Linked DNA regions of Homo sapiens. The protein of the gene in region 6 purifies or fractionates together with the protein of the main gene of each other region. This does not show direct contact. Each region holds a gene or a part of one and is shown on either strand. Other genes may lie near its edges. The genes, in order: MPZL2, RFT1, SLC39A10, VKORC1L1, PIGG, ADORA2B and PTDSS2.

Evidence for each region.
Region 1: the proteins of ADORA2B (region 6) and MPZL2 purify together in Homo sapiens (affinity purification with mass spectrometry; one large-scale study listed by BioGRID and IntAct). This does not show direct contact.
Region 2: the proteins of ADORA2B (region 6) and RFT1 purify together in Homo sapiens (affinity purification with mass spectrometry; one large-scale study listed by BioGRID and IntAct). This does not show direct contact.
Region 3: the proteins of ADORA2B (region 6) and SLC39A10 purify together in Homo sapiens (affinity purification with mass spectrometry; one large-scale study listed by BioGRID and IntAct). This does not show direct contact.
Region 4: the proteins of ADORA2B (region 6) and VKORC1L1 purify together in Homo sapiens (affinity purification with mass spectrometry; one large-scale study listed by BioGRID and IntAct). This does not show direct contact.
Region 5: the proteins of ADORA2B (region 6) and PIGG purify together in Homo sapiens (affinity purification with mass spectrometry; one large-scale study listed by BioGRID and IntAct). This does not show direct contact.
Region 7: the proteins of ADORA2B (region 6) and PTDSS2 purify together in Homo sapiens (affinity purification with mass spectrometry; one large-scale study listed by BioGRID and IntAct). This does not show direct contact.

Annotation. Positions count from the first base shown.
Region 1 is NC_000011.10:118,254,129-118,258,464, forward strand, and holds part of MPZL2 (myelin protein zero-like protein 2 precursor), read right to left. Parts: intron 3,186-4,336; coding exon 3,122-3,185; 3' UTR 3,110-3,121; exon of another isoform or gene 2,783-3,109; intron 1,106-2,782; 3' UTR 1-1,105. UniProt on the Homo sapiens protein: Mediates homophilic cell-cell adhesion.
Region 2 is NC_000003.12:53,087,147-53,090,209, forward strand, and holds the end of RFT1 (man(5)GlcNAc(2)-PP-dolichol translocation protein RFT1), read right to left. Parts: 3' UTR 1,337-3,063; downstream 1-1,336.
Region 3 is NC_000002.12:195,663,458-195,667,793, reverse strand, and holds part of SLC39A10 (zinc transporter ZIP10 precursor), read right to left. Parts: intron 1-4,336. UniProt on the Homo sapiens protein: Zinc-influx transporter. When associated with SLC39A6, the heterodimer formed by SLC39A10 and SLC39A6 mediates cellular zinc uptake to trigger cells to undergo epithelial-to-mesenchymal transition (EMT).
Region 4 is NC_000007.14:65,952,238-65,956,565, reverse strand, and holds part of VKORC1L1 (vitamin K epoxide reductase complex subunit 1-like protein 1), read right to left. Parts: intron 2,493-4,328; coding exon 2,266-2,492; coding exon of another isoform or gene 2,153-2,265; 3' UTR 1-2,152. UniProt on the Homo sapiens protein: Involved in vitamin K metabolism. Can reduce inactive vitamin K 2,3-epoxide to active vitamin K, and may contribute to vitamin K-mediated protection against oxidative stress.
Region 5 is NC_000004.12:522,541-526,876, reverse strand, and holds part of PIGG (GPI ethanolamine phosphate transferase 2, catalytic subunit), read right to left. Parts: exon of another isoform or gene 4,034-4,336; intron 3,419-4,033; coding exon 2,964-3,418; intron 1,707-2,963; coding exon of another isoform or gene 1,639-1,706; exon of another isoform or gene 1,073-1,638; intron 1-1,072.
Region 6 is NC_000017.11:15,943,433-15,948,398, reverse strand, and holds the start of ADORA2B (adenosine receptor A2b), read right to left. Parts: upstream 3,270-4,966; 5' UTR 3,151-3,269; coding exon 2,816-3,150; intron 1-2,815. UniProt on the Homo sapiens protein: Receptor for adenosine. The activity of this receptor is mediated by G proteins which activate adenylyl cyclase.
Region 7 is NC_000011.10:456,471-460,806, reverse strand, and holds part of PTDSS2 (phosphatidylserine synthase 2), read right to left. Parts: intron 621-4,336; coding exon 519-620; intron 1-518. UniProt on the Homo sapiens protein: Catalyzes a base-exchange reaction in which the polar head group of phosphatidylethanolamine (PE) or phosphatidylcholine (PC) is replaced by L-serine. Catalyzes the conversion of phosphatatidylethanolamine and does not act on phosphatidylcholine.

The DNA.
Region 1 (4,336 bases), on a different chromosome or scaffold from region 6:
AAGAATAAAGTTGGTTTTATTCCATTTAAAGTAGTTTTGGTATTTCTTTGCTCCATACCAAAGTCTTCCTCCCCCAAAATAAACAAGTGAATTAGAATTAAAAAAGAAAAAAAGTTAATAATTTCTTCTAGTTCTCAGAGTTTTATATAAAACTGTACAAAATTATCATCATTTAGAGTTGATTTTTTTCACCAGCCCTGAATTTTCAAACTTGTAATATGCTGTTTCACAATTTTTTTATTAAATTACTTAATGATTCCAGTCTGCAAATGAGCATAGACTTTGCTCTGTTGTTATAGATCATTGAATTGGGGGGGAAACATAGTAAGCTAAACTATCCGTCACTGCTCATGAAAGACCCACATTGTTGATTATTTTTCCCAGCACAGAAGAAAAGTGACAAGTGATTCATCCTGCAATGGCCTCTGCCAATCTTTTCATATCTATGTAACCTTTTGTAGTTACTGTGTGATTTAGCGTTGTGCTATTGTAAATCTTGGATTAATTAACAAAACAACAAAAATCTATCACCTGGAATATTGAAAGAAATTCAGTAAAACAAGATGTGTCTCATAGTTAAGGAGAGACATAAAAATAAAAATGTCATTTAACAGTTTGAATTTAGGATTTACTGTTAATCAGAAACACCGAGGAGGCTTAGCTCACCTTTTAATTGAGAATGTGGGAAGGAAAGAGAGTAAACACATTAACTTTAGTAGCAGAAGTGCTGCTAAAAGAAATACGTGAAAGGAAATGTAACAGACAAATTGGCTTTTATCCCTTTTGATACCAATATATGTGTATACAAGTCATAACACTGTAAGTAGTGTCTTAAGGGCAAAAATGTAGCTTCTTGTTTATAAAACCTAATGAGCACTTGAAAAAATTTACACTCTGAAATTAAATAAGACCTTAATAATGAGGCTGTGTATGACTGGTGATATGGAGGAGCACTGTGCTGGCTCCAGAGGGGTGTTGCTTGTCTAGAATCTAATATGCTGCAGAACTGGTTGGAAAACGGGTCACAACTGGAAAAGCCAAAGAAAAGTTTCCATTAACTTCAAGAAATACTAGGGTTCTTGTTCTTGGAAATCATCTCAGCTTCCTAAAACACAAAACAAAAGTTTAAATGGATAATATATTTGAGAAGAGTACAATAGGAATACTTGGCATTATGAATTACATATATGTTATTAGAAGGAAAATATTCTGAGGGAAAGTATTCATATTCTCCCCCAATTTAATTTTTAAAAGAAGTTTCCTAATCCTTATTACATAATTTTCAGAGTTAGTATCCTTAAATCATGGCCTCTAAGTACCTTGCATGGACACTTGGATGACCCACAACTTGTTCACACACATACATCCCATATTCTCCCCACTTCTCACTCTCATTACAAACAAAATCAGACATATAGAAAAGTAGAGAACAGAGTATGTGGAATTTACCCATCCCTTAAATTCATTAATTCATTCTTTTCTTTTCTTTTCTCCCCTCATCTCCCCCATCACCTAATTCTGAAGCCTTTTTTGTTTTATTTGCTTTTTTCCTATGCTTTTAAAGTAAATTGCTGACATTTACCCCAATACTCCAGTAAGAATTTTTCAAAATAGGTACATTTTCTTTATAACTACAATACCATCACTATACCTAATACAAACTAACAATAATTCCCTAATATTATCCATATATTTAACATTTTCATATTCAAGACTTTCCCAATTGCCCCTCCAAGCTTGTTTTTACAACTAGCTTGTTCACACTATTATTCATCCAGTTGGGGATCACACATTGCACTTTGATTGTGTTCATCTCTTAAGTTTCTTTTGATCTAAAACATCTCCCATATTTATTTTCCATGACCCCAAGTTGTTAGATAATCCCCTTAACTTTAAAAAGACAATAGCCGTTGGTTGGTAAAAACTCCCTAATGTTAATTTTGGTTTTCTGGTTTTACAATACAATCATTTTACTCCATATTCTATTTTATAAATCCTTGAGGTCTTTCACTGGAGCTTTAGCCTATAAAAATGTGACCCTCTTTGCAACTAATAACGGTCTGTAAAAAATGTTCTCCCGTGTAACAGAGCCAGAGTTTTACAGGATAAAGTCATTAATATCAAGAACTTTCTTATGAGCGTAAAATTTAAGTTTGCATGTCCGGATTTATAACATCTAGAAATTAAATGTGTGGACCTATTTCAGAGAATGGGAGAAATTCTGAGCATATGAAAAATAAATTGGCCCGGCGCAGTGGCTTATGCCTGTAATCCCAACACTTTGGGAGGCTGAGGCAGGTGGATCGCTTGAGCTCAGGTGAGACCAGCCTAGGCAACATGGGGAAACCCCGTCTCTACAAAAAGTACAAAAATTAGCTGGGTGTAGTGGCGCGCACCTGTGGTCCCAGCTACTTGGGAGGCTGAGGTAGGAGGATCACTTGAGCTTGGGAGGGAGAAGTTGCAGTGACCCGAGATCGCACCACTACACCCTAGCCTGGGCAACAGGTTGAGACCCTGTCTCAAAAACAAAGACAAGAAAAATAAATTATCCTACTTTTTAAGCCTGATGAACCTGAAAACTGGAAAAATAAAATTATACGCTACTAAAACTGGATTCATTTCATGTAGTTATTAGTGCCAATAACTAAATGAGAGGAGTTGAAATCAATTCCAAATAGTACAAAAGCTCTCCTGTAAAAACTGCCAGATATGTCTATTGAGTCACTCTCTTAATACCATAATTGGTTTACAATTAAAAAAAAAGAATAAGCAGATACTAATCTTTTGATTTAAAAAAGATTTATTTACTTGTTGAATATTTATTAGTAGTAGTAGTAATAAATATAACCCCGAAGCCACAAATAACCTTAGGATTCTCTCAGCTTTAATGGCAGTAGAGTCCAGCTTCTTAATCTTTTGCACAAAATACACTCAAGGAGGAGCTATCCATAAGACTAATAGAAGACTTTTGTCTCCCTGACCCAGCTCCTCTAATTTCATATGGGAAACACCTAACAGCCATAAAGTGATGATCTGGGAGTCCTCATTAGAGATGGGCTGGACATGTCAGAAAGCTGAAGAAAGAAATCAACCTATTTGTGAACCTTACCATCTAAAATTGTTAGTCTGTGTCTTCTAAATAAACAGAGACCTTTTTCTCTTGGTTGAGCCTTTCCTCTTCTTTTCTGTAACAAGCAGAAACCAAATGTCAGGTGAACAAGACAAGAAGCAAGTGGGTAAATCCCACAGAAGCTTCAGGTAAGGTATTTTTCCCCCATATTTTTGGAAGAATTACATGCACTTGGGAGTAGATTGAAGTTTACACAGAGCTAAACTGGTGCCATCTAATTAATAATATTCACACCTCTGAACTTAGAGACTTTTCAGAATGTAAGGGAATACAGTTTGGGTTCTGATTCGGGAACTCCAGAGTTTTAAAGCAGACACCTTATTTTACCATTAGTATCCCACCTCTAATTTATATTTGTTATTCAAAAAAAAAATAAAAAGTTTTGTGTTGACCTAAGTCATCTTTATTGGTTCTATTCAAACTAGAACCTCAGAGTTGGGTTTGTTAGGCTTCTTAAAATTAGTTCTGTTTCGCCAGGCGCGGTGGCTCACGCTGTAATCCCAACACTTTGGAAGGCCAAGGCAGGTACATCACTTGAGATCAGGAGTTCAAGACCAGCCTGACCAACATGGTGAAACCCCATCTCTACTAAAAATACAAAATTAGCTGGGCATGGTGGTACATGCCTGTAATCCCAGCTACTTGGGAAGCTGAGGCAAGAGAATCGCTTGAACCCAGGAGGCGGAGGTTGCAGTGAGCTGAGATCATGCCATTGCACTCCAGCCTGGGCAACCAGAGTGAAAGTCTGTCTCAAAAAAAAAAAAGGCTGTTTATTTCATTAAATATTTATTAAGGAAATGAGATAAATGGTGCTGGAACAACTAGATATCCACATGCAAAAGAGTGAATTTGGACTTCTGCCTCAGCCATATACGAAAACGAACTCAAAGATCTAAATGTAAAAATTAAGACTATAAAACTCTTAGAAGAAAACATAGCCATAAATCTTCATGATCTTGGGGATTAGGCAGTGGTTTTTTAGATGAGACACAAAAGCACTAGCAGCAAAAGAGAAAAAATAAACTGGACTTCATCAAAATTTAACTTTTGTTCTTCAAAGGACACTATGAAGAACATGAAAAGACAACCCACAGAATGGGAAAAAAATTGCAAGTTGTATATCTGATAAGGAACTAGTATCCCTTAAATAACTCTTACAGTTCAACAAGAATAAGTGAAATAATGTACCCCATATTAAAATGGGCA
Region 2 (3,063 bases), on a different chromosome or scaffold from region 6:
GAATTGCTTGCACCTGGGAGGCAGAAGTTGCTGTGAGCCAAGATCGTGCCACTGCACTCCAGCCCGGGCAACAGAACGAGACTCTCTCAAAAAATAAATAAAATATGTGAAGGATATCCCCTGTTCGGATTCTCTCTCTTCTTTAGTCCCCACCCCGTTTTCAGCCATGGCTCTTCTAAGACTAGGCCAGGGATCATGCTGCCCCTGATTTCCCACTGTGAACTGAACTCCATCCATCCCAGAGGCCACACAGCAACACTCACAGCTCCCACCGTCCGGGCCTGCCCAGCCTCTCACCTGAGCCCCTCCTCCTCCAGGTTCTGGATGCTCCCAGCTCCTGCCTGTCTCTTCCTCAACATCAAAAGCTGCTCAGGAAATAATTTTTTTTTTTTTTGGAGTGGGGGGACAGGGTCTTGCTCTGTCATCCAGGTTGGAGCGCGAACATGCTCATTGCAGCCTTGAAATCCTGGGCTCAAGCAATCCTTTGCACCTCAGCCTCCCGTATAGGAACTACAGGTGCGTGCCACCACGCCCAGCTAGTTTTTAAATTTTTTTGTAGAGATGGGGTCTCCCTGTGTTGCCCAGGTTGGTCTCAAAATCCCGGGCTCAAGCAATCCTCCTGCTTCAGCCTCCGAAAGTGTTGAGATTATAGGCGCAAGCCACAACGCCTGGCCCGGCAAAGAATTCTTTTTTCTTTTTTCCTCTCACTAGAGAACAAAAAGGAAATAAATCTTGATGGGGTTATTTTACATCTTAGTGTGAATGAGTCACCGAGTTCTCTGCGGAATCTGAATTTCCAGTATCCTCTCTAATTCTGGAAATAACAGTCTTTGAACTAGGTGAAAGGAAATTCTGGAAATAACAGTCTTTGAACTAGGTGAAAGGAAATTCTATCACCTGATGGAGGAGGATATTAGAGTGAAGGGGCTGTCCTAGACCCCCTGAAATCACACACTTGCCCTGCTCTGTGCTGAAACTAGTCCTGACTTCTCAAGGAATGGCCGTTTAATAAACAAACAAAACAAGGACCAGGCCAGATGGAGAAGACAGGAGAGAAGTCCCGCAAACAACGGGAAATACAGCTTAAGGGGGGATGGGGAGAGGAGCAAAGGAGACACCACAGGCCTTTCAGTCCCAGACACAGGAGGTGCCAGGATACCATCCCTCTTCCAAAGTCAAGAAGCCCAGTCCCAGCTACAACATCAACAGAGAGAGAAACGTTCCAGCTGAGGAACACCAAAGGTTCACATCCTCAAGTTACTTACCTACCCTCCTTATGAAATTAAAGAATTTTTGTCCCTTTTGGAGGGAGAAGGGGTATGAAAGAAGAAAGGTCTTTTCAAAAGTGTGAAGAAAATATTTTATTTCTTATTAAACCAGGGGACTGATGTGAAACTAGCAACAGGAATGCATGATTAAGGAAAAAAAATGGCTGGTCTGGAATCCCAGCACTTTGGGAGGCTGAGGCAGGAGGATCACTTGAGCCCAGGAGTTCAAGGCAACAGTGAGATCCAGTCTCTACAAAAAAAAATTAGAAATTAGCTGGGTGAGGTAGCACACACCTGTGATCCCAGCTACTCAGGAGGCTGAGGTGGGAGGATTGCTTGAGCCCAGGAGTTTGAGGCTGCAATGAGCTATGATGACACCACTGCACTCCAGCCTGGGCGAGAGGAGAGAGTGAGACCTTGTCTCTGAAAAGAAAAGAATAGGCCAGGAGCGGTGGCTCACGCCTGTAATCCCAGCACTTTGGGAGGCTGAGGCGGGCGGATCACAAGGTCAGGAGTTCAAGACCAGCCTGGCCAATATGGTGAAACCCTGTCTCTACTAAAAATACAAAAATTAGCCGGGTGTGGTGGCAGGCGCCTGTAGCCCCAGCTACTCAGGAGGCTGAGGCAAGAGAATCGCTTGAACCCAGGAGGCAGAGCTCGCAGTGAGCCGAGATCGCGCTACTGCACTCCAGCCTGGGCGACAGAGTGAGACTCTGTCTCAATAAATAAATAAATAAAGACAGGAGGAAGGAGGGGCCCTGCTTGAATCAGGTTGGGAAGTGGCTGGGAACAGGGCAGAGTAGCGGTTCCAGAGCCAGAAGTTGCCATCAGGTAAGCATTAAACAGCACAGCAGCAGCTCCTCACTGAGAGACCCCAAGCCAAATCTGAAGTGACCAACAGTTACCTGTGGCCAGAGGAGCACAGGAAGTCAGCGATACTGTTCTTCTCACCAACGAATGCTCCTTCCTTTCATAAAGGTTGTGCCTCAGAGACTTGTTTCCATGGAGAAGTAGCCTCACTATAAGTGGTATTGAAAGCCAAAAGTATGATTTCTGCTCCCCAAATCCACTTGGGTAAAGTGAGGCAGGCTGGCCCACATGTATGCAAGCTCCCTGAGGCACAGCTGTGGCTCTAGGGGGTCCAGCAGGGGAAATGCCAGAGGCCTGGTCAGGTCCAGCTGAGCTTTAGGGAGGCACCAGAGGCAGAGAACCACAGAGGACCTGCTGCCAAAGTGCTGACAGCCCAGGCGGCAGGGCTAGTCCTGGGAAAACACGCAGCCACATGTACAACTCTCCCTAGATACAGGGAAGCAGGACACCGGAAGAAGCCCTGGGCTGCCTTTGCGGCTGGCTGTCTTTCAAGAGGAGCTGGCCCTGACAGCAGCACTGGGCGAACAGCAGGGGAGGGATGAGAGAGTGAGCACTGCCTTCAGACATAGAGCCTCTCTCAAGCTGAGAGAGCACAAGCCTGGGGAGTCCTGCTCCCAGAGACCCCGGAGTCACAAGGCTGCTTGTAGAGCAGCAGCTCTGTTCCTGGAGCAGAGAACAGGCACTGTGAGCATGAGCATGATGGTCCTGGGCCTGTCACGAAGGAAGACAATGGGGCATGCCAACCTTGGTGGCATCAAAGCCACGTGGGCTTGCCAGAAAAGCCAATCTCAGAGCCCTCCTCCTGGGAGACACAGACCCTGAAGGCCTGGAGTGGGTCCTGGGAAGCCATGTTCTGACTTGCAATCCAGGTGATTCCGAGGCAGGTAGAATGAGGATCATGCTTGAGTCTGGGGTCAGGTGGGCA
Region 3 (4,336 bases), on a different chromosome or scaffold from region 6:
TATACAGTACAGAACCAGGAATCAGAAACCTCTGTCTCTAGTTCATCCCGGTTGTGCCACTGTTTTCTCTCTGCAAAACAGGGAAAATAATACCTACACTTATCCACCAAATAAACCAATGTATACGAAACTGCTTTGTAAAGCAATTAAATATATTAACCTAAGGTATTACCATTATTAGATGTAGTATTATGTATCTTTCACTTAAATTACAAAAAGTATGGTGGAGGGGGAGGAGTCTCTCTGTTGTGACTCTTTTGAAAGAATGCTAACAAAATATTACAAGAGCACATGCATCGTTAGCACATCCAAGACCTGCTCTAGATTGCAGGAGGCACCCAATTCACTAGTATCTGAGCAGAAGTTGGAAAGACTCACTACACCTTACCAGTTTCACTGACATTAGAATATTCTTCAAGGGATAAAAAGTATTTTAGTAATGAGTTCTCAGCAGGGACCACAAAATCCTCTTACAGCTTCATGGTTTGCTTTTTCATCCCCCTACTTCACCAGCTATCTAATCTACTGGAAATCATATTCACAGTTTGGAATGCCACTGCAACTCTTCCAATAAATAAATAAAAGCACAGTTCAGGCAACCCAATCTTTCCACTGAGATTCATTCATGTAAAAAGTTAAGTGCATGCTAATTAAGCTTGGGCATTAACTCAGTTCTCCTGTTTCACTAACTTGAGAGAGAATATAAACATTTATACCTTGATTTAAAGTATCAAATCAATCAACAACACATCATATCTATCTTTATTGTATTCTATACATTCATGTACAAACCTACATTTTCTCATCAAATGTCAAAACAATTACCTGCATTTCTGCTTTTCAGCCTTTCATTACAGGGAACCTGGAACCATATTGGAGAAAGCTACCTGTAATATTGCTACCTCTGTTCTGCTATTTGTGAATACAAACATCTGAGATTAGTAAATGCAGTCGTTGGGATGTCTTTTGAAGCTACTAAAATGTTTATGATTTTAGTTACATGCATTATGAAGCAGACTTACAGTGCTAACCAGCCAGATGCAGTGGCTCACACCTGTAATCCCAGCACTTTGGGAGACCAAAGCAGGCATATGGCTTGAGCCCAGGAATTTGAGAGCATCCTGAGCAACATGGCCAAACCCCATCTCTACAGAAAATGTTTTAAAAATTAGCCAGGTGTGGTAGCCCATGCCTGTAGTCCCAGCTACCTGGGAGGCTCAGGTGGGAGGATTACTTGAGCCCGGGAGGTCAAGGCTGCAGTGAGCTGTGATCGTACCACTATACTCCAGCCTGGCAACAGCTTATTGTTCTCTTTCCACTCATCACTGACAGCTGTCTTTATTCTAAAAATAGCTACTGCTGCACTACCTCAAATCTTTATTATTCCATGCATTTTCACCCTTCCCTTTTTCAGTGTCTTGTCACTGTTATACATCCTTGATTTTATACCAGCTTGCCATTGTAAAAACTGCCAGCTAAAATGATCCTTCTTTTCCATGACGTCATGGGAAAAAAATAATCAAAAAATCTCCAAGTCAATCTTTGTATAACATTGACTTTTTTTATGTTTCAGACAACACAGAGGCTACTTATTCCCCAACATGGGAGCTTTCTGTCCAATTAATTTTTTAAAACTACATAAAATTCTTGAACATAGAGTCTTGACCACATTCCCCTTTCTTATATAGCTACATTCAGAAACACAGAGCTGGGGTCTTTTAATATATGCATATTAAATAAAAGGACAAAAAAATCAAGCTAATTATTACCAGAAAAAACAAAGTTGTGCAGGAAAGTAGTCATTTATTACAATGGCACATTGTATAAAATAATATTTATAGCATAAAAATGTAACCCCAATTACTGTTCTAAACCAAAATTACAATGAAAATTGTACGGAGAAACTGGAGTACAGGAAATAGGAAGGTATGCACAGAAGTGAAAGAGCACTAAAATCATTCTTCATTAAATAGATAATGGTTAGAACTGAAAATCAGCTGCAAGTAATGAACATGTTATCTGGAGACATGGTAATGAATAGCAAAATAATCAACTAAAGGAATTAAGGGGTTCCTTATCTCTCTAGGCAGAATATGAAAGGAACAGACAGGGGACTGATTTTTCCCCCCAAGAAACTTCACACAACTATTTGATTCTTTAAACTATATTCATGTATAACTTTGAAAAAAACCTAAAAGTTGGCAATTATAAATTAAATTTTAGTTGACAAACCAATAAAATAATGTCACATGTGGAAGAAAATGAATTCTAGCTTTAAGATTTTCACAAGCATTTGTCTGTGGGTTTTTCAAGTATTTATTTTTTGAGGCAGGTTTCCACTGTTGCCCAGGCTGTAGTGCAGTGGTGCAATGATAGCTCACTGAAGTCTCAAATTCCTGGGCTGAAGCCATCCTCCTACATAGCTGGGACTACAGGTGCGCAGCACCACACCCAGCTAATTTTATTTATTCATTTTTTTGACAGAGTCTCGCTCTGTCACCCAGGCTGGAGTGCAATGGCGCAATCTCTGCTCGCTGCAACCTCCATCTCCCAGGTTCAAGCAATTCTCCTGCCTCAGCATCCCAAGTAGCTGGGATTACAGGCACCTGCTACCACACCCAGCTAATTTTTGTATTTTTAATAGAGACGCCATGTTGGCCAGGCTAGTCTCAAACTCCTGACCTCAGGTGATCCAGCCCCCCTCAGCCTCCCAAAGCGCTGGGATTACAGGCGTGAGCCACCGTGCCCGACCTCACACTGGGCTAAATTTTTTGTCGAGATGGTGGTTTCCCTATGTTGCCCAGGATGGTCTCAAACTCTTGGCCTTAAGTAATCCTCCCACCCCGGCTTCCCAAAGTGCTGGGATTACAGGTGTGAGCCACTGCACCCAGCCTGTTTGCAGTCTGAAACACAATATGCAAACATTTTAATTCCAATTTGTGCTATTATCTTTGATTACTTGCTTCGAATGAATTCCAAGATGAGGGGAAAAACTATAAAAACTTTAACACTTTTCAGGTTTTGTCATATACTTACTTTCCAAATTGATTTCTAGAGAAATTAAGCTTGGTTATACTGCCACCAGCAGTATGATCATAGCACTCTCATTCACATTATTATAAATTTTTAAATAAATAAAAGGTCTTACTTTATTTTTAATTCATATTTTTAAAGTTATTCCTGATGTCTCAATATTTTTTCCAACATATATGAGCTTTTACATAACATGATTCAGTCACATTTTCTGCAAAAACCCTGCAGTTCTGTTCCTTTTTATTTTGATCATGTTTTCCCTTTCATGTATAGATGTTTTCATGTACATGCAATGAAACTTATTAAGGTTTCTGCAATTTCTTCTATGACTGCTGCTAAATTTTAAAAGTTTTTTCTCCCCATATTTTAGTGTATATTTTCTTATTTTTTTTTAAAAGAAAAGCTATAATTAAAAATAACTCCTAAAAAACTAAAACCCCTAACATCTATTTCTTTTTTAGGAAAAAGAAAAATGTCAGTTGCACTAACATCCAACACTTTCACACACATATCAGTTAACTAAAAAACCTTAAGTACTTGTGTTTACGCAAAAATCTTCACAGAAAAAGATTTAAGAATTTGTTTTAGAAATTATATATTCCATGAAATTATATTTACAGTGAATTTAAAGAACTTTTTTCTTAATATATTTCAGTGATTTAACTTTAGCATACCTTTCTGATTTTCAATTTTTAACTGGCATGATTATTTGCTTGAAAATAAATTCTATATGTACACTGTATGTGCTTTCATAAGATGTTATATACATTCAATTATTCACTTTATTTGGAAAAAACGGGAGAGAAGGAGGAGGGAAAGGGCTGAAAAACTAGTTGTTGGGCACCATGCTCAGTACCTGGATGACAGGATCATTCATGCCCCAAACTTCAGCATCACACAATATAACCCAGGTAACAAACCTGTACATGTACCCCCTGAATCTAAAATAAAAGTTGAAAAAAAAAAAAAGAAAAAAACTATAGACTATCCTAATTTAAAACCCAAATCTTTTTTCTGTTTTAATATACAATTTACTTTTCTCTTATTTCTTTTTTTTTCATAACTTCTATATTCTTGAAACACCATAAAATCAAAATCTTAAAAACAGTATATTCCAAACATTAAAAAATTATGAAAATATGATATGCTTTTCTAAAAAAGGTCCATGGGAATAGAAAACATGATCTCACTGCCTTATAATGTATATATACACAGAATACGTTATGTGTATATTATACTATCTTATTATTACGTTTTCTTACATTGTTTTACTGATCTCATTTTATAATGTAGTAACACACCA
Region 4 (4,328 bases), on a different chromosome or scaffold from region 6:
GAATGTGGCAAAAGTTTTTATACAACTGAAACAGTGGTTTCCCCGAGGCTTAGAAAAGCAAAGGAAAAACTGGAAGGGTCTGGCTGACCATTTTGCCATGTTTTCTCAGGTAAGAGTTGAAGACATTTGCAAGAATGCAACATCAAGACAAGCTTTAACTATACTCTGTTGATTGATACAAAATAGGATGAAAAACCATTGGATATTGGGACACGAGGAACTTGTTTAGCACAACCGATGTCATGTATACCACAGTTTTAACCATTAGGCCATTTCCACTGTAGCTTAGAAAAAAGAACCAGAGGACTGCCTTGGTAGAGCTGGATGCGCTGCTACAAGATGGCCTCACTGTACAGCCCTCAAACGTGAGGACTTCTTTCTCCATAGACACCAGATGGCCAATCAGTACTTTCTAGAGTTCTTTAACTACTTCAGAATGCAAGAACAGTACATACATACTCCAACAGCCATTGAAAGATTCACATTCATGGGAAAACACAAGTCTTGATGAAATCTTGACTTAAGCTCTCTTTTAAGAAACTGGTTGAAACTGGTGAAAAGTTCATTATGATTTGGACTTGATACCTGCCTCGGGCCAGAAGACCTACGTTGCATCAATTCTGAGTCAGTTGGAAGCTACGGAATTGTTGCTGACTCTACACATTTGAGTTTACAGAGCAGAGCCCGTCCCCTCCCTTCAAAGAGAAGGCAAATAAAGCACTCAAGAGATACTGGTCTCATTGACTATTTTCAACATAAAATGATTAATCAGGTTGGAAGCAAAAACATTACTGCTGCTTCTCAACCAGAGGATTAAGTGATCACACAGGACCCTTCTGCAGAGTGCAGGTTTTCTACCTGACGGTGAAGAAAGGAGGGAAGGACACTTCTTCTGCCCAAGGTCAACACACAAAATATTTGGTTTGAGATTTAAGACAGAAGGCACTTTTAACATTCTGATATCAGATGTTAACCATACAAACATCCTGTCACAATTTCATTTGGGTGTACTCAAATCCCCTTACAAAAGTCTTCTTACTGCATGTGTGTCATTATGAGAGCAGTGGCGACATGAGCAGATTTAGCCTTGAGATGTGTCTACCTGTTGCTATTCTCCCGATGAAGCAAACTGGGCAGCATGTCAGCCCTGAAGGTTACAAATCCAGTATTTGACTGCAAAACAATTAAATTAGACATCTGAGTGGTTAGTGCAGAAAGAAACAATTAGCAAGAACACTGGCTCCCACTCCGGAGCGATGGGGCTTGGACTGGTCTTTTCCATCATAATACTCTTTGCTTGACTGGCACCAACGTTAAGGAAAAATATCTGCATGAAAATTCAACTAGTGGAAGAAACTTTACCTAAAAATGCCATGTTTATATTTCCAGCTTTTCTCCAAAGAAAAATACCCATTTTCCCATCCTTAGTGTCTGAAGGCCTTGGACTTGAAGGTCTGGCCACATGACTCATTCTGTAAGGTTAACAACTGGCCCAGTTTTATGACTGAACACAAACTGGACTTGAACGTTCCAATTCAATTTTTTCCTTTCAGAAGAGGGAGATGAAAGGGAACCGACCACCCTATTATTATTTTTTTTGCCCTATTATTTGCTGCAACCACGGCTGCCAGTACTTTTCACAAGATGCTGTGTATAGGCTATTTTCACTATCTCCTCAGTCAACGCTGAGCTGACAGTTCTTCAGTGCTACACTCCAACTAAACTGTACAGTAAGTTCTGCAGAAATGGATCTAATATTTCTACCTTTATTTACAAATATCACAAATGGATTCTAGTTGAATCTACATGTTTAAATCCATCGGCTAAAAACATATTACATATTGTAAACATGGCAATATTTAATACAGTATCTATTCTAGAATATTTTCATGTCATGATCACATTTGTTATACCTGAAATTGAATTTATACACATTAAAGAATTACTAGCAATGGTTGCTCACTTTACAATTGAGGGCAGGGGGCTAGGGCTACATTTTATCATTTCAGAAACACTTCAAAGTAAAGTTAAAGCTTGTCTTTGATTGGCTCGGCGTATCCTTTTTGTATCCATATTTAAAATGAAGACTGACACAGAAAATAGCGAGGGCCCCTTCTAATTTACCGGATTTTTAAAAATCAGTTTGAGATTCTTAGGGAAAGTGTCTGTTGTGAATAATAATAATAATAATAATAATAAAAACCTGCTGCAAAATAAACTGAATGGAAAGGGGCTTGAGACTGTTAGGGTGGAGTCTGTCGGGCGTCAGTCCTGCTTGGGTTGCAGCTGCCGCTTCCAGGCCTCGTTCAAGTAAACTAGTCGTTTGTAGTTGATAATGAGAAGAAGGAAGTTCAGCACGTACGTGACGATGCAGATGATGCAGAACTCCTTCAGCACAAAGTACAGAATGTAGGCCAGGTACAGGGACCCCACGACCGACATGATGGAGGACGTCATGAGGATCAAAGCCGCCACAGCGCTTGCTGTCATGCCTGTAAGAGAAGAGACGCAGGCTCAGTCAGGCCTTGGTGCTGGAGAGAGGCTTTCTGAGTGACAAGGAATAACACTGTGTGACTTGCTGCAGTGTTTGAATACTGATCTTCCTGCCAACTCTGAAAATTGAGAACAGAAATACTGCTCTGTTTTGTTAAAATTATACAGGTTGACTCTGCAGTTGATAATGCCAGGTTTTGGGGTTTTTGAGATGGAGTCTCACTCTACCGCCCAGGCTGGAGTGCAGTGGCACAATCTCAACTCATGCAACCTCTACCTCCTGAGTTTAAGCAATTCTCCTGCCTCAGCCTCCCAAGTAGCCAGGATTACAGGCACGTGCCACCACGCCTGGCTGATTTTTTGTTGGCCAGGCTGGTCTCCAACTCCTAACCTCAGGTGATCCTCCTGCCTCAGCCTCCCAAAGTGCCGGGATTACAGGCATAAGCCACCATACCCAGCCAAATGCCAGTTTTATAGCTGTGATGTTTTTGATTTCTCAATCTTTCAGGTAAAACATTACTAATTTCACAAACTAGCCTAGTTGAAAATATGCACACAAAGAAAACATGCAATCTCACAATCACATTAAGCAATGAAGCTGACTTGTAACATCAACAGCCCCAAGACACCAAATGAATAACGGGACATGAGGACCACAACCTTTTTCTTCCGAGCTGCACACATTTGGTGAGAACCTTCTCTGGACTTTCACTACATCCTGCCCATCTGTGGAAAGTAAAATTTGCTTTTCCATGTTTAGATCAAATTGATTAAAAATCCACAATGAGAGGTGACTACACCAACAAGCTGCTGAAGAGAGAAAAAGAAACTCTTGATAAACATTTCAGGAAGGGCTCACCCTGGTGGATAAGGGAAACCACATTTTGCCCGTTGGCTGCATGTGGGTCAAACCTGATCAAGAAAAATGGTGGACATGTGTGCTAAATCCAGGCTCTCAATACAAAAAGGCACCTGAAGCCACGCACAGTGGCTCATGCCTGTAATGCTAGGACTTTGGGAGGCTAAGGCAGGCAGATCATTTGAGGTCAGGAATTTGAGACCAGCCTGGCCAACATGGTGAAAGCCCCTCTCTACTAAAAAGTACAAGAGAAAAAAAAAATTAGCTGGGCATGGTATTGCACGCTTGCAACCCCAGCTACAAGGGAGGCTGAGGCACGAGAATTACTTGAACCCAGGAGGCGGAGGTTGCAGTGAGATAAGATTGCACCAGTGGACTCCAGCCTGGGCGACAGAGTCTTAACTCTGTCTCAAAAAAAAAAAAAAAAAAAAAAAAGGAAAAAAAAAGGCACCTGAATTCTGGACTCTATCTTCACATGTATTGTTTTTAATTTCTTATAGGCAACAGTATAGAGAATATGTGCATTTATTTTCAAGGACAGAGAAGGCAGAGCATGTTAAACTACCCTCCTACCCAATGACTCATGGATAAGGATAACAGAAACAGGAACAAAATAACAGGTGGGAGCAGGTATAAAGAAGTCAGTTAAAGAGCTGAAATCCTGGGCCCTGTTGGCAAAAAAAAAAATGCAACAAGAAGACGCCTGTGGGCCGGCTGCCGCACAGCCACGGGCCTAGATGCTTTCATAGGGCACTTCAAGACTAAGGTGCTGCTGAATTACTTGTTGCAGGGACTAGCAAATCTGGCCAGCTACCTGCTTTTGTAAATAAAGTTTTATTGGCACCCAGCCATGCTCATTCATTTATGTAATGTCATTCATTACGTAATGTCTGTGACTGCTTTCATACTAGAAGAGTTGAGTGGCTGCGGCAACTGGCAAAGCCTATTTTCTGCCAGGCCCTTTACTGAAAAAGTT
Region 5 (4,336 bases), on a different chromosome or scaffold from region 6:
AGTGTAACAAATAAAAGATGGTCAACCTCAGTGGGGTGTGGTGGCTCACACCAGCAATCCCAGCACTTTAGGATGCCAATGCGGAAGGATCGCTTGAGGCCAGGAATTTGAGACCAGTCTGGGCCACATGGTGAGAACTCATTAAAAAAAAAAAAAAAAGACAGTTAACTTGAACTCTCACTTCTCATTCACAAACGGGTCTCCCACCATCAGATGTGGATGCCCAGAGGCCAGGCGGTGACAAATAGAAACCGTCCTCTTGTTCCCTGGTACCCTCTCGGGGTCAGCCCTGCACCTACCAGCTCACCTCCCCTCTCCTGCCTCCTCCCATTAACTCAGTAACGCATGATACGTCCCTAGACCCACATGGCCTCACAGGGTCTGCTGTCACCCGCTCCTGGGTGAGGAGATGGTGCAGAGGTTGACGGCCTGTCAGAGGGCAGAGCCCGGAGTCCCGACCGCGATGCGGTGGTGCAGCACCAGCCAGTCCTGGCCTGTGTGAGGGTGGGGAAGGCCGGGCTCCCTTCTGTTTCTTTCACTGCAGCTCCCGCTTCAAAGCCTCCCAGGATGACGGGGAGACTGGGGCCACACGGGGGCCTGGGCCTCACCCCGGGAAGGGGTACCTGGGTGTCTGTGTATTGTTGCTTTTTAAATGGCACGCGTTTTTACACAATCTTCAGGATTGTTATAATAATAAAATAGAACATTTATAACAATATAATTGTTACTGTCATAGAAATTATATGAATGTGGGCTGCCTCAAAATAACTGTCATATTTTCAGACTATGGTTGACCTCGCGTAAGGAAAACCGCGGATAATGCGGTTGGGGGTGGCTCTTGCATGTGGGGCGGAAAGCCAGCCAATTCTTTCCTAATGCTTTAATTTTCCAGGAAAGTAAGAAACAAGGTGTCAAAGTGCTATTCCGGGACACGGAGCTCCCTGACACACCCGGCTGCTCTACATGCCTGGGATCCCACCCCGATGCTGGCGTGCCCCGCACAACCTCCCAGCAGCCCGTCCCCCCTCCGCTTCCTCACCTCTGGAGTGGGGACCAACCAAAGTCCCCTCTCCGGGGCTTCTCTGGAAAGGAAACGTGCAGGCACACAGCAGGCAGATAGAAGGACCCATCTGCGATGACTTGGCTAACCGAGGTTTTCGTAATTTAGTTAATGCTTAGCCTCCCACAAGAATTACTTAATCAGAAGAATCTGTAATTTCGCAGCTTCTGATGTAAACTTACAAGTATCTTCCAAAAGAACTGTGCCACTAACGTGGCCCCAGGAATCCTCACGTGCTCACCAAGACTGAGTCTCGTCATTCAATTCTGCTTCTCTGCCTCAGCAGGTATGAAGTCACACCCTGTCATTTAACTGGAAGTGCCCTCATTACTAGGACTAGGCATTTCCCTTTTCCTTCTGCTGCCATTTCTTACAGGAGTTCTCTGCAGTGACGGGACCGCAACCCTTGCTGTTACTCTCGCCGCAGATGCTCTCATTGTGCTGCTTCTTTTGCTTTAGTTTCCTAAGTCTTCACTGCCAGACAATTAAAATTTAAGTCTCGGCAAATCTTAGTTATTTTTCTGTCCTGGTTTCTTCTACTTATTTCGAGCCTTGCTTGAAATGATTTGCTATACTTTCTAGGTGGTTTTCCAGTCGCCAATGAAAGGCTCAGGAGGTGGCTGAATTCCCCCACACGGCTCTGTCCCTTCAGGATGAGGAGAGAGAAAAGGGAGGATGGGGAGGAGAAAGGAGCTTTGCTAAGGGCAAAGCTGGCCCACAGAGGCTGCGCCTGCCTTGCCTGGCTGACCCCGTCCTTCTTGCTGCCCTGGGGATCATCAGCAGCAGGATAGGGGTCTGGGGGAATGACATGGCTTAGATGTTTGTCCACTGCAAATCTCATATTGAACTTGGACCTTCAGGCTGGGCACAGTGGCTCACGCCTGTAATCCCAGCACTTTGGGAGGCCGAGGTGGGTGGATCACTTGAGGTCAGGAGTTCAAGGCCAGCCCAGCCAACATGGTGACACCCCATCTCCACTAAAAACACAAAAATTAGCCAGGCATGGTAGCGGGCGCCTGTAATCCCAGCTACTCAGGGGGCTGAGACAGGAGAATCTCTTGATTGCAGTAAGCCAAGATCGTGCCACTGCACTCCAGCATGGGTGACAGAGTGAAACTCCGTTTCAGAAAAAAAAAAAAGACACTGAACCTCCAGTGTTGGAAGTGAGCCTTGTGGGAGACGTCTGGGTCATGGGGGCAGATTCCTCACGAATGGCTTGGTGCCATCTTCGCAGTAATGAGCGCATTCTCGCTGTGGCTGTTCACAAGAGAGCTGATGTTTAAAAGTGCCGGACACCCTCCTCATCCCTCTCTTTCTCCTGCTCTCGCCACGTGAAGTGCTGGCTCCTGCTTTGCCCTCGCCATGACCGCCAGTTTCCTGAGGCCTCTCCAGGAGCAGATGCCGACACCATGCCTCCTGTGCAGCCCGCAGAGCTGAGAGCCAAGATGAACCTCTTTCCTTACATGTGACCCGGCCTCAGGTGTTTCTTTATAGCAACACACGAATGGCCTGACACAGGCAGACACTGAGTGATGGGCGGGGGGCACACAGCCCAGGCATGGACGAGGCGTCCAGAACAAGCCACTAGCAAGCTTGACCCCCACATAGCATCTTTACTATATAATGATCACTGAAACACAAGTTTTCAATCATGAACAGTTACAGTGGTTCAGCACTAATAAATGAAACCTGTTAGGCTAGCCCCCAAATAAATTCACTTCTCAACATTGATTCTAGTATCCAGTAAAACACTGGTTTTAGTGTATTTTCCCAATTCTTCAGATCTCAAATACTATCCCATTCTTAATATGAAAAATGGTCTCAATTTAGAAAAAGAAGAGCTTGGCAGGTGACCAATCGGCCGTAGAAAGTCTGGCCTGTGGCCACGGGCCTACGCTCTCACCTGGTGAGCCAGTGGCCGAGGTCAGGCCGGTGAGCCCACTGCACACCTGTCTGGTTTAGGGAGCGCAGCAGCCGGCAGCAGGCCAGTATTAGCCACGGACTGGCCAGCACCATCCACTTCTCGCGGCCTCTGAGCACTTCGGAGGTAGAGGGGCTTCCGTGGCCTTTGTCTCGCTCCAGGACATCACAGCCAGGCCCGTCCTGCCACGCTGCTGTGGCCCCGTCATGCCCTTGTTCCACACAGAGGCCACACGGAGGCTCACCGTCATCTCCCAGAAAGTAGTTTCTGTAGGTTTCTTGGCTCAGAGCTAGACACAGGGTGTTCACAAGGAAGTACCAGGTCTGGTGCTCCTCCTCCACGAAGCTGCTGGCGCCCAGGCTCAAGACGTGGCCCGCCGTCCCCAACAGAATAAGAAGGTCTAGCTCTGACCACCTTGAGCTGGGATGCATGGGGTTCTGTGAAAAGGAAAGTGCACTTTGTAAGAGACGGTCTGATAACGACACACATCTTGCTGCATGTCAAGTCCTTGCTCACAGCAGAGAATGCCCTGGACACACACCATTGTTCCTCACACCCAGCACCTGGGCCCCTACTCTGGAACAGCCCCCTTCTGCTCCAACGGCAGGAACCTTCCTCTTGGGACGCAGCCTGCAGGAGTGGAGACGCCCTCAGCCCAGGCAGGGGAGCCGGACACTGCACGGCCAGCCAGCTGTTCTCACACTGGACTCCAAGTCCCAAGGTGAGTGACAAAGACTGAAAATGGTCAGAACCCTCTGGGCAGTGGTGCAGCCCAGAGAGCTTGCCCAAAGGCTCCTGGACCCGGCCCTCCACGCTCCCGCTTCCAGGCTCTGGAAGAGCTTAGGTCTTCAGATGCACGTCGCCAGTGCCTGCTTCTTGAAACCAAAGAACCTCAACAATACATCCCACCAAACCAGACCTCAAATTTCTCCAGGAATATTCTAGAAATCCAGAACGTTTCCACTAAAATGGTTAATTCTGTTGAAATGACAAAGTTGGCATCACAGTACTGTCTCTTAAATATACTAACTTAAAGCAGTCAAAAGTAAAGATGAGGACTCAATTATTGCCGTTTATTCTTTTGGTAACTACATACTGCGTGCAGCTAGGTACTAATTCAATAGCAGGAGAGAGAGCATGAGCCCAGATGGGCCCGAGGTGCAAGCGTGGCACAGATCATCCTGGCTCCGAGGAAGCCTGTGCCCTGATGACAAAGCTGTGAGTGTCTCGGTCAGACACTCAGCACAGGGCCTCTGACGGCTCAAGCCAAGAGGGGATGAGGGCTGCGCAGGGTTGGGGTGGGGGCCCAACAGTCCTGCTGCCACTGCAGTGGGTCCCTTGATCCTGGGCTCTGT
Region 6 (4,966 bases):
GCCAGGGCCCAACATCAGGAATTGTCTATGGACTTGAACCAGAGGCAATGGACTTCTGTTTGTGGCCAGCCCTGTCCTGAAGGCAAAGGGCCAGGCCAAGGGCGTCATATTTGTCCCTGGCATTCCCTCCGGCTCCCCTCCCTTCTACACTGTCATCTGTCACATCAGTAAACACCTTGGCAATGCGGTGGCAGGTGGGGGCTGTGGTCTCTGCGGCCACAGGCCTCACACTTGGAGCCCTCGAACCGGGAGGAACTGGGGGTAGGTCCCAGGACTGTCCTAGCCTAAGCCTTTAGCCCTCACTCCCTGCACCTCACCCTCCTTATTGCTTGGCTTCAAAGGGGACACACCTCCTCCCAAACAGGGCACTTCCAACTTTACTCTCACCTGGAGTTCCACAACCCCAGGAAGGCCTCAGGGCCAAGTCAGTGCTTGGGGCGCCATGCACCCAGCCTGTGTCAGTCAAGTGAGGAAAGCTTCAGGCCCTGAATCTAGGAGGATTCTTAGATCGCTGGACCCAAATGTCCCTGGTTAAAGATCCCACTGCTGGAATCCCCTCGACACCCACTCCAGAGATTCTGATTCAGTACAACCAGGTGAGGCCCTGTAATCTGTATTTTAACCTCTTCCCAAGGGGCCATGAACTGCTAGGCCAGCTGAGGGAAGGCCTGCCCCAGGCACCAGCCCCTGAGAGGGAAGCCCTGGGGGCCCTAGTACACCTCTCCCACCCACCAGGGTTGGGGTGGTGCTGTGGCCAGGTCAGACGACTAACTCTGGGGCAGGGAGCTGGGGACTGCCTGTGCACCTCTTCCAGACCTCCAAGCTCTGGACGGGCCAGGAAGGCAGGATGGGGCGAGCCTCAGTGTTCTTCCCTCCTGCCCTTGGCAATGCAAAGAAGCTCAGGGCCTGTGATTCACAGCACTTTCCCCTTAACACACCCACACCCATTTTTTTCAAGACCTCACCCAGCACAAACCAGGACAAGAAGGAACAGATTTAAACTTTCATGGAACTTCCTGCTCCCTGTGGCCTGGGAGATTGTTCCACTAACTCCTCTCTGGGTCTCTGGTCTCTGCCAGGGCAAGTCCAAGGGGTTTCCATTAGATGGACAACTCAGGCTGGGGCTTGTGACTGCTCTGCTGGATGCAAAACATCCAAAATGCCATCAAGTAACAACGATGACACCAAAAGGCAGGGAAGGGATCCAGAAGAGAGAGAAGAAACTGCTGTCCTCCCTAAGCCTTGGAAATCCCTGGGCTGTCACACCTGATGGGAGACATAAGGCCTCCTGGTCCAACAGCACGGGCAGCAGCACATGGAGTGGCCAGACACCCACATAAGGCTCACAGCCCTCCCAAGCAGGAGGCTCCTGTTCCTGCTGGGACCCACGAAACAACCTGCAAGGACCAGGCCCAACACATCTGCCTACTCAAATGGCCTCTGGGAGCATTCTCCGGCTCCATTCCCACAAACACATTCCCCTACAACCACCAGTTTACTGCAGGCAGGCTCCTCCTCCCAAAACAGCAGAGCACTTTTCTCCCTGACTCCTAAACACGGTGCCACACATGGCCTTGCAGAGTGGCCTGATGGCATGGGTGGGGACACGGTGCCAGCTGTGAGTTCAAGCCCCGGCTCTGACACCCATCCCTGATACACCATCCTGGGCAAGACTCCAACCTCCCTGGGCCATCACCCCTCCTCTACGAGATGAAGGTTACAGCACCCGTCCTCTGGTACTACTGCAAGGACTGCTGGGGACACGTTTATTATAAACTGTCTGCACAGAGTTGGCACCCAATAAATGAATTCCTTCCCTTCCTTCCTACTCTGTGATTTAGTTTCCCTGTCTCAGCTCCAAATTTAAAGAGATCTCAAGCTCTCCTCAGAAATGCCAAAGTGGCCCAGGCACCAAAGACAGAGAATAAATACTTTCAACAAACTCTCAATGTTGAAGTCATCAGCTCCAACTGGGAATCCACTCTGGTCGCTGGCTGACTCCATCCCCTGAATCCTAGATTTTCTCAGTGTGGGAGAAAGAGTGGACAAGTAAGTTCGCCACCATTTTCTGCACTTCTCAGCCCGCTCCCAACAGGGCAGCAGGAGATAAATAGTTACACAAGGGCAGTGAGGCTGTAAGGCCGTTTGCCAGACACGAGGAAGCATTGTAACTCCTTTTAAAAGTATATAATCTGAGTCCGTAGCGTTCCCCAAAGTTAACGGACACCTTCCCCTGGGATGGGCCGGGCCGCCTCTCCGCAGCAGACACGTTCTGAAGCTGGCTCATGCGTGTCCATTCTGACGGTGCGAATGCCCAGCGTCCAAAGTTGCCTTGCCCTTAGTGGGAACCTCCCGGGCCTCCGGGAGCCGCAGCACTCACGGGACTGCCGCTGCACCGCCGCTGCGGGCGAGTGTTAGGAACGGCCTTCGTGGCAGGAGTGGAGATGTGATCACCAAAACTCCCGCGCCCCGGGCTCCACCCGCCCACGGGGGTGACGCTTTCCCCGGGGGTGACGCTTTCCCCGGGGTTTCCACGGCGCCTCCCCGGGCGCCGGGGACCGCACTCCCCGGACCCCCTAGAGCTGTCCCTACGCAGATCTCCTTAGAGCGACGCGCATCTGGGATGTCTTGGGTGCCCGGGCGCACTGGTCTAGCGTTGCGGGGTGGCCAGGCTGGGAACCAGCCCTCCAAGCGCCCCGCGCGCCCCCAGCCTGGCCCGTCTGGGGCCCCCGAGGGAGGAACCCCGGCCTGGAGAAGACGACCCATTTCGGAGCTCCGACGGGGCCCCGAGTTCGGGCGACGCCGAGCGCCTCACCTGAGCGGGACACAGATGGCCAGGTATCTGTCGACTGCCACGGCCAGAAGGCTGAAGATGGAGCTCTGCGTGAGCACCAGCACGAAGCAGGCGAGGAAGAGGCAGCCGTAGAAGTCAGTGCAGAAGCCCAGGCTGATGGTGATGGCAAAGGGGATGGCGAAGAGCCCCACGGCCACGTCGGCCGCAGCCAGGGACACCAGGAAGTAGTTGGTGGGCGTCTGCAGAGTGTTCGCCGTGCCCACCGCGGCGCACACCAGCACGTTGCCCGCCACCGAAAGCGCGGCGATGACCAGCTCCAGCGCCACGTACAGCGCGTCCTGTGTCTCCAGCAGCATGGCCGGGCCAGCTGGGCCCCGGGCGCCCCCTACCGAAGGCGCGCCGGGCGAGGGGCAGCCGCGTGAGACCCGCCGGGCATGGCCATAGCGCCCGGACCGCGCCTCCGCCTGCCGCTTCTGAGCCTCGGGGCTGGGGCGCTGGTGGCCGGGACCCACGGGTCGGGGCCCCCCGCGGCCAAGAGGCGGCACCCATTGGCCCGCGCGCCCGCCCGTCTCGGGCTGGGCGGAGCACCACCCACTCGCCCGAGCCCAAAGTTCGCGCCCGCGCGGGGCCCCTCCGGTCCAGGCGCCGTGCCGCGTCTTGGTGGCGGCGGATAACTAACAAATTGCCCCAACTTCCCGTCACGCTCGAGCTCGGAGGCTGTGTCCCAGTGCTCGCACTGCCTTCCAGTCCGGGCGACTCCTGGGATGGGGCCGGGCTCTGCCCGGGGCGCCAGCAGGTCCCAGGAGCCGCCGCGAGAGGACCCCCCAGGGCCGCGCAACCCCGGGCGGGGCGAGCTCACTCCAGGCTAACCCTGCGCACCCCGGGCAGGCCGACTGGATGGGGGGCTGCCGGGCAGGCAGGGAGCCGAGGCCGCAGTCCCCGCTCGTGCAGCAGTCTCGGGCAGCGCAGCACCACCGGAGCTGTCTCCAGGCTGCGGGGCCGGACTGCAAGGAGCCCTCGGGGGCTGCAGCCCCCTCCGGCCGCCTCCCAGCGAGGCTCAGCGCTGTTCTCCACCCTCGCCCGCGCCACTGCCCCTACGGCCCCGCTCTGCCTTCTACCTTAAGACAAGCTCGTGGCCGTCCCATCCTCGTCCACCGCCCGAAAATACCAGTGTTCCCCGGGCCCTCTTTTTTCTTTCCTTCACACTCACCCTGGATCGGCACAGGCTCCCGAGGCCTCCCACGTGGCCCTCACACCCTTAACTCCCAAATCTCTTGCTTCAGCCCTAACAGCCTCCTGAGGGCCAGATCCTAACACCCCACTGCCGACTCTCGCCAGGAGAGAGACTGGTGCCCCCAAATCCAACAAGACCAAAACCAAGCTCATCTCTAATTCTCCCCAAACCTGTGCTGCCGCCTTTTCCTGGGACCCTGTTCGTTATTGACCTGGCAACCCTCACCCACCCTAGGAAGTTTGCTGACACCCTGAGCCTTCGCCTTTCTCCACGTCCCAATGATCAGCAGTGCTGCTGGTTCTGCTTCCAGAGACTTGCTTCCTTTTACCCCCAAAGTCCTGCCCCGAGTCCCTCCTCACCACCTGCTTCTACCATCCCTCCCTCTCTGCCTGTGGGTCCTCAGCTTCTGCAGCCCTCACCAACACCATTGTTCTAGAGCACTCCTGGCCACGCTATTTCACCACCCGAAAGCCTTTGCTGACAGTCACCAAAGAGGATGGGTAAGGAGATTTTCCAGCAACAGGAAAAGATGCTTGTAAAATCATGTAAAGCAAAAATCAAAACATGGGGTGACTGCTAAAGGGTAAAGGATTTTGTAAAGGATTTTTTAGGGTGATAAAAATTTTCTCAATGTGGTGATGGTTGTACGGTTCTGTGGATATACCTCAATGCCACTGAACTGTACACTTGAAAGGCATGCATTGTGTGGCACATAAATTATATCTCAATGTAGCTGTAATGACGACAACATGGCTCACGCCTATAATCCCAAAACTTTGGGAGGCCAAGACAGGAGGAACATTTGAGGCCAGGAGTTCAAGACCAGCCTGGCCAATGTAGGGAGACCCCATCTCTAAACAAACAAATAAAAAATAAATCAGCCAGGCACGGTGGCAGGTGCCTGTAGTCCCAGCTACTTGGGAGGCTGAGGCAGGAGG
Region 7 (4,336 bases), on a different chromosome or scaffold from region 6:
CAGAGGACACACCCAAGGTCTAGCCTGCCTGCCTGTGGAGATAAACCTGAGAAGACGAGTTTACTCGCTTGGCTGCTGACCAGATGGTCTGCGGTCCGTGTCGGCCCCTGTCCGTGCAAGAGCCCCGCTGGCTAACGGAACCAGCACGCGGCCACCGCAGGAACCTCACCCCCGGAGACGCCCAAACTCAAGGGCTCAGCCCTGTAGCTGCTGCAGCTCGTTCCAACCTCAACATGCAAAACTCAGAGGAAACGCAGCACAGGCTGCCGGTCACGTGGAGATGACACAGACTCCTGGCTCCCAGTGACAGGCGACGGGGGCTGACCGGGAACGCCACGCAGCACCAAGGGCAGCCCTGGAGTCTGCACATCAGACACACTCAAGGGAGAGGCCGGCGGCCCCACGCAGCCCTCTGGTGAAGGCCTTCTGAGCCCCCGGCAGCCCGAGCAGTAAGGGTGCCACACCCACCACACGGGGCACAGGGCAGTTTCAGAAGGCAGGACAAGAGGGCAGCTTACCTCTTGGTGTTGTAGGCCGTGTCCTGAGGTGTTTCCTCCAGCAGCGTCACATAGCCAAGCGTACAGGTGAGGATGAAGAGCACGGTTAAGGTGTGGGCTCGCCTGAAATCCAAAAACGCATAAGCATGGTGTCAGAGCTTGGGCAGCATTGCTAAATACTCACGTAACAGGCCCCAAATCCTCTCTACGTCAAGGAGAGGGCTTAAACTCCACTCTCCAACTCCCAACCAGCAACTGGCTGCGAGTCCCTAGCTGGGTAACTCCGAGATGACCCTGCGTCTGCTGGCCAGTCAGGGCTGAGACCAGCCCCCAGGAGGCTGGACAGGAAGAGCCCCGTGTTCCTGGGAAGCTGAAGGCCGCTGCTCAGAGGGCACATGCTGCCACTGGCGTCCAGGGCAGGTATCTGCTATTAAGAGCAACTGGACACGTAAAACACGCGCTTTTCACTGCGCAAGACAAGCCGAGACAACAACTCTTTGGGTTCATGAAATAACATCTGAGATTCAGTGCAGCAGCCCAAGACACCAAGAGCTGAGAAGGGGCCTGAGCAGAGGCCTGCAGAGTGACCGCTGCTAGCTGGAGTGAGCCACGAGCCGTGGGTCTGCCCGTCCTCTGGCCTGTCAGAGCCCAGACGTGGGAGGAGGAGGCAGGGCGCTCCCTTTGCAGTCTTGTCCTGTCCCATCGCTGGTGGAAAAGCCCACAACCAGCCTAGTATCAGAACTGGGGGCCACCAGACCCCAGCCACTGCCTGTGCCAGACACTCGCCTGAGACCCCCTCTGCATGACCATCTGCAAATGGAGGCAGAGACCTAGTTCCTACATCCATCGGAGTGTGTCCTCGGAGAGATGATGCACCCCTCTGTGCCTCAGTTTCCTCATGTCTAACCCAGGTCCTACATCCACCAGAGTGTGTCCTCACGTCTAACCCAGGTCCTACATCCACCGGAGTGTGTCCTCACGTCTAACCCAGGTCCGACATCCACCGGAGTGTGTCCTCACGTCTAACCCAGGTCCGACATCCACCGGAGTGTGTCCTCACGTCTAACCCAGGTCCGACATCCACCGGAGTGTGTCCTCACGTCTAACCCAGGTCCGACATCCACCGGAGTGTGTCCTCACGTCTAACCCAGGTCCGACATCCACCGGAGTGTGTCCTCACGTCTAACCCAGGTCCGACATCCACCGGAGTGTCCCCTCACGTCTAACCCAGGTCCTACATTCACCGGAGTGTGTCCTCACGTCTAACCCAGGTCCTACATCCACTGGAGTGTGTCCTTGGAGAGATGATGCACCCCTCCGTGCCTCAGTTTCCTCATATCTAAATGGGGAAGCTTCTGACTTCCAAGGACATCATGAAAATTAAGTGAACAATGCACTTAAAGCATGTTGCCCAGGACTTGCCTCCATGAAATGTAAACTATTTGTGCCCTAAAGAAATGAAAAGGCAAGTCACAAACTGGGAGAAAATATTCACAATACATATATCTGATAAAACTTTGTAGGCTGCACGCGTCTGTAGTCCCAACGCTTTGGGAGGCTGAGACAAGAGGATTGCTTGAGCCCAGGCGTTCAGGACCAGACTGGGTAACACAGTGAGACCCCATCTCTATAAAAAATTAGCCAGGCGTGGTGGCAGGCACCTGTAGTCCCAGCTACTCGGGAGGTGGCAGATTCGCTTAAGCCCAGGTTGAGGCTGCAGTGCGCTAGGATGATTGTGCCACTGCACTCTAGCCTGGGAGACAGAGCAAGATCTGTCTCAAAAAAAAAAAAAAAAAAAAAAATCAGGCCAGGCGCGGTGGCTCACGCCTATAATCCCAGCACTTTGGGAGGCCGAGGCGGGCGGATCACGAGGTCAGGAGATCGAGACCATCCTGGCTAACACGGTGAAACCCCATCTCTACTAAAAATACAAAAAATTAGCCGGGTGTGGTGGGTGGGCGCCTGTAGTCCCAGCTACTCGGGAGGCTGAGGCAGGAGAATGGCGTGAACCCGGGAGGCGGAGCCTGCAGTGAGCCGAGATCGCGCCACTGCACTCCAGCCTGGGCGACAGAGCGAGACTCAATCTCAAAAAAAAAAAAGAAAAAAAATACTTTTTATCCAGAATTTATAAAGAACTCATACAGCTCAATAAACAATTTAATGAAAAAATAGGCAAAAAATTGAACAGACACTTCACAAGGAAAACATACAAATGGCCAATAAGCACATGAACAAACGAGGAGCAGCACTGGTCACCGTGAAAGCAAATCCAAGCCAGGACACATCAGTACACATCCGCTGGAACGGCTGAAATTAAAAGCATCACAAATCCAAGCCACGACACAGCATCAGTGCACATCTGCTGGAACGGCTGAAATTAAGAACATCACAATGCAGAGTGCTGGTGAGGTCTCGGAGCAAGATGCTCACGCACTGCAGGTGGGACTGCAAAACGGCACAGAAAAGTGAGGCCTATGCTACGTCTGCTATCCAGCCAGCCACATACTCCCAAACGTGGGCCTGAGACAGATGAAAACACAGGTCCAGTCAAAGACACACTCCCAAACGTGGGCCTGAGACAGATGAAAACACAGGTCCAGTCAAAGACTTACATGCAGATGTTTCAGGTATAATAACCTAAAACGGGAAACAAACCAAAACTCTATCAGTGGAGGAAACACTGTGGTCCCTCCGACCAGCGGAGCATGGCTCAGCACTCAGAGGAATGTGCTGCTGGCAACGACCTCAACGTGGATAGATCTCAAAGACACGCCCCTTGGGAGGCCCAGGCAGGAGGACTGTTTTGGGCCAGGAGCTCAAGACCAGCCGGGGCAACATCATGAACATCGTGAGATCCCGTCTCAAAAGATAAAAAAAGAAAAAGAAAAACACGCTACAGACGCCAGGCACAAAAGAAACCTCCCATCTGCTGTCACCCACACACGACTCAAGGAAATGAGTTTGCATCCACGAAAAGCAGACTGGAGCGGAGACACGGGCCTTCCGGATGATGGAATGTTCTGGTGTGAGCGTGGTTGTGGCGGTGCATGGGCGTGTCACCTGCACGTGGGTGCTGCACTGAACGCACCCACACCTGGACTTAGCCGATTTCATGAAGAGCCAGGGTGGAGCTGCAGGACTGCAGGTGGAGGCTCCAGGCTGGAACTTTCTGTATTTTTTGTGCAGATGGGGTCTTGCCATGTGGGTCAGGTTGGATTTTTTTGTATTTTTTGTAGAGACGGGGTCTTGCCATGTTTTCCAGGCTGGTCTCAAACTCATGAACTCAAGGGATCTGCCCACCTTGGCCTCCCAAAGTGTTGGGATTACAGGCATGAAAGTGAATTCTTCTGCCATATTTTACAATACTAGGCATTTAAGACAACCAGAGGTAAATAAAAGTTTCATTGTGACTATCAACCACCTTTTTCTTTAGATACATTTGCATTTGAGTCCTAAGCCATGAGGAAACCGCAGGGAACCTCAGCCTTCCTGCTGAGCTCCACACCGTGGGGCCCTTCAGTACTGAGAGACCTGCCCACAATCACAGCAGAGAACCCACGTCAGAAGGCCCTCTTAGGCCCCCATTCCTAAGGGTGCCTGGATTCGGCGACCCAGAAACTCACCCTCTGCTGAACACTACACTTACAGAACGTGTCCTCCTGGAGACAGCCCTTGAGGGGAAACGGGCTGGGCTCAGCTGGGGCCCAGGAGTCCCCTTGTCCCTGGCCTGCCCCTCCATGAGGCCCACCCTTTCCTCCATACAGGTGACATCAGATTTCGGTGAGGAGAGTAAGATGACCCCGGTTAGGATAAGAAGAGTCAGGAGTGTTTGGGGGCAG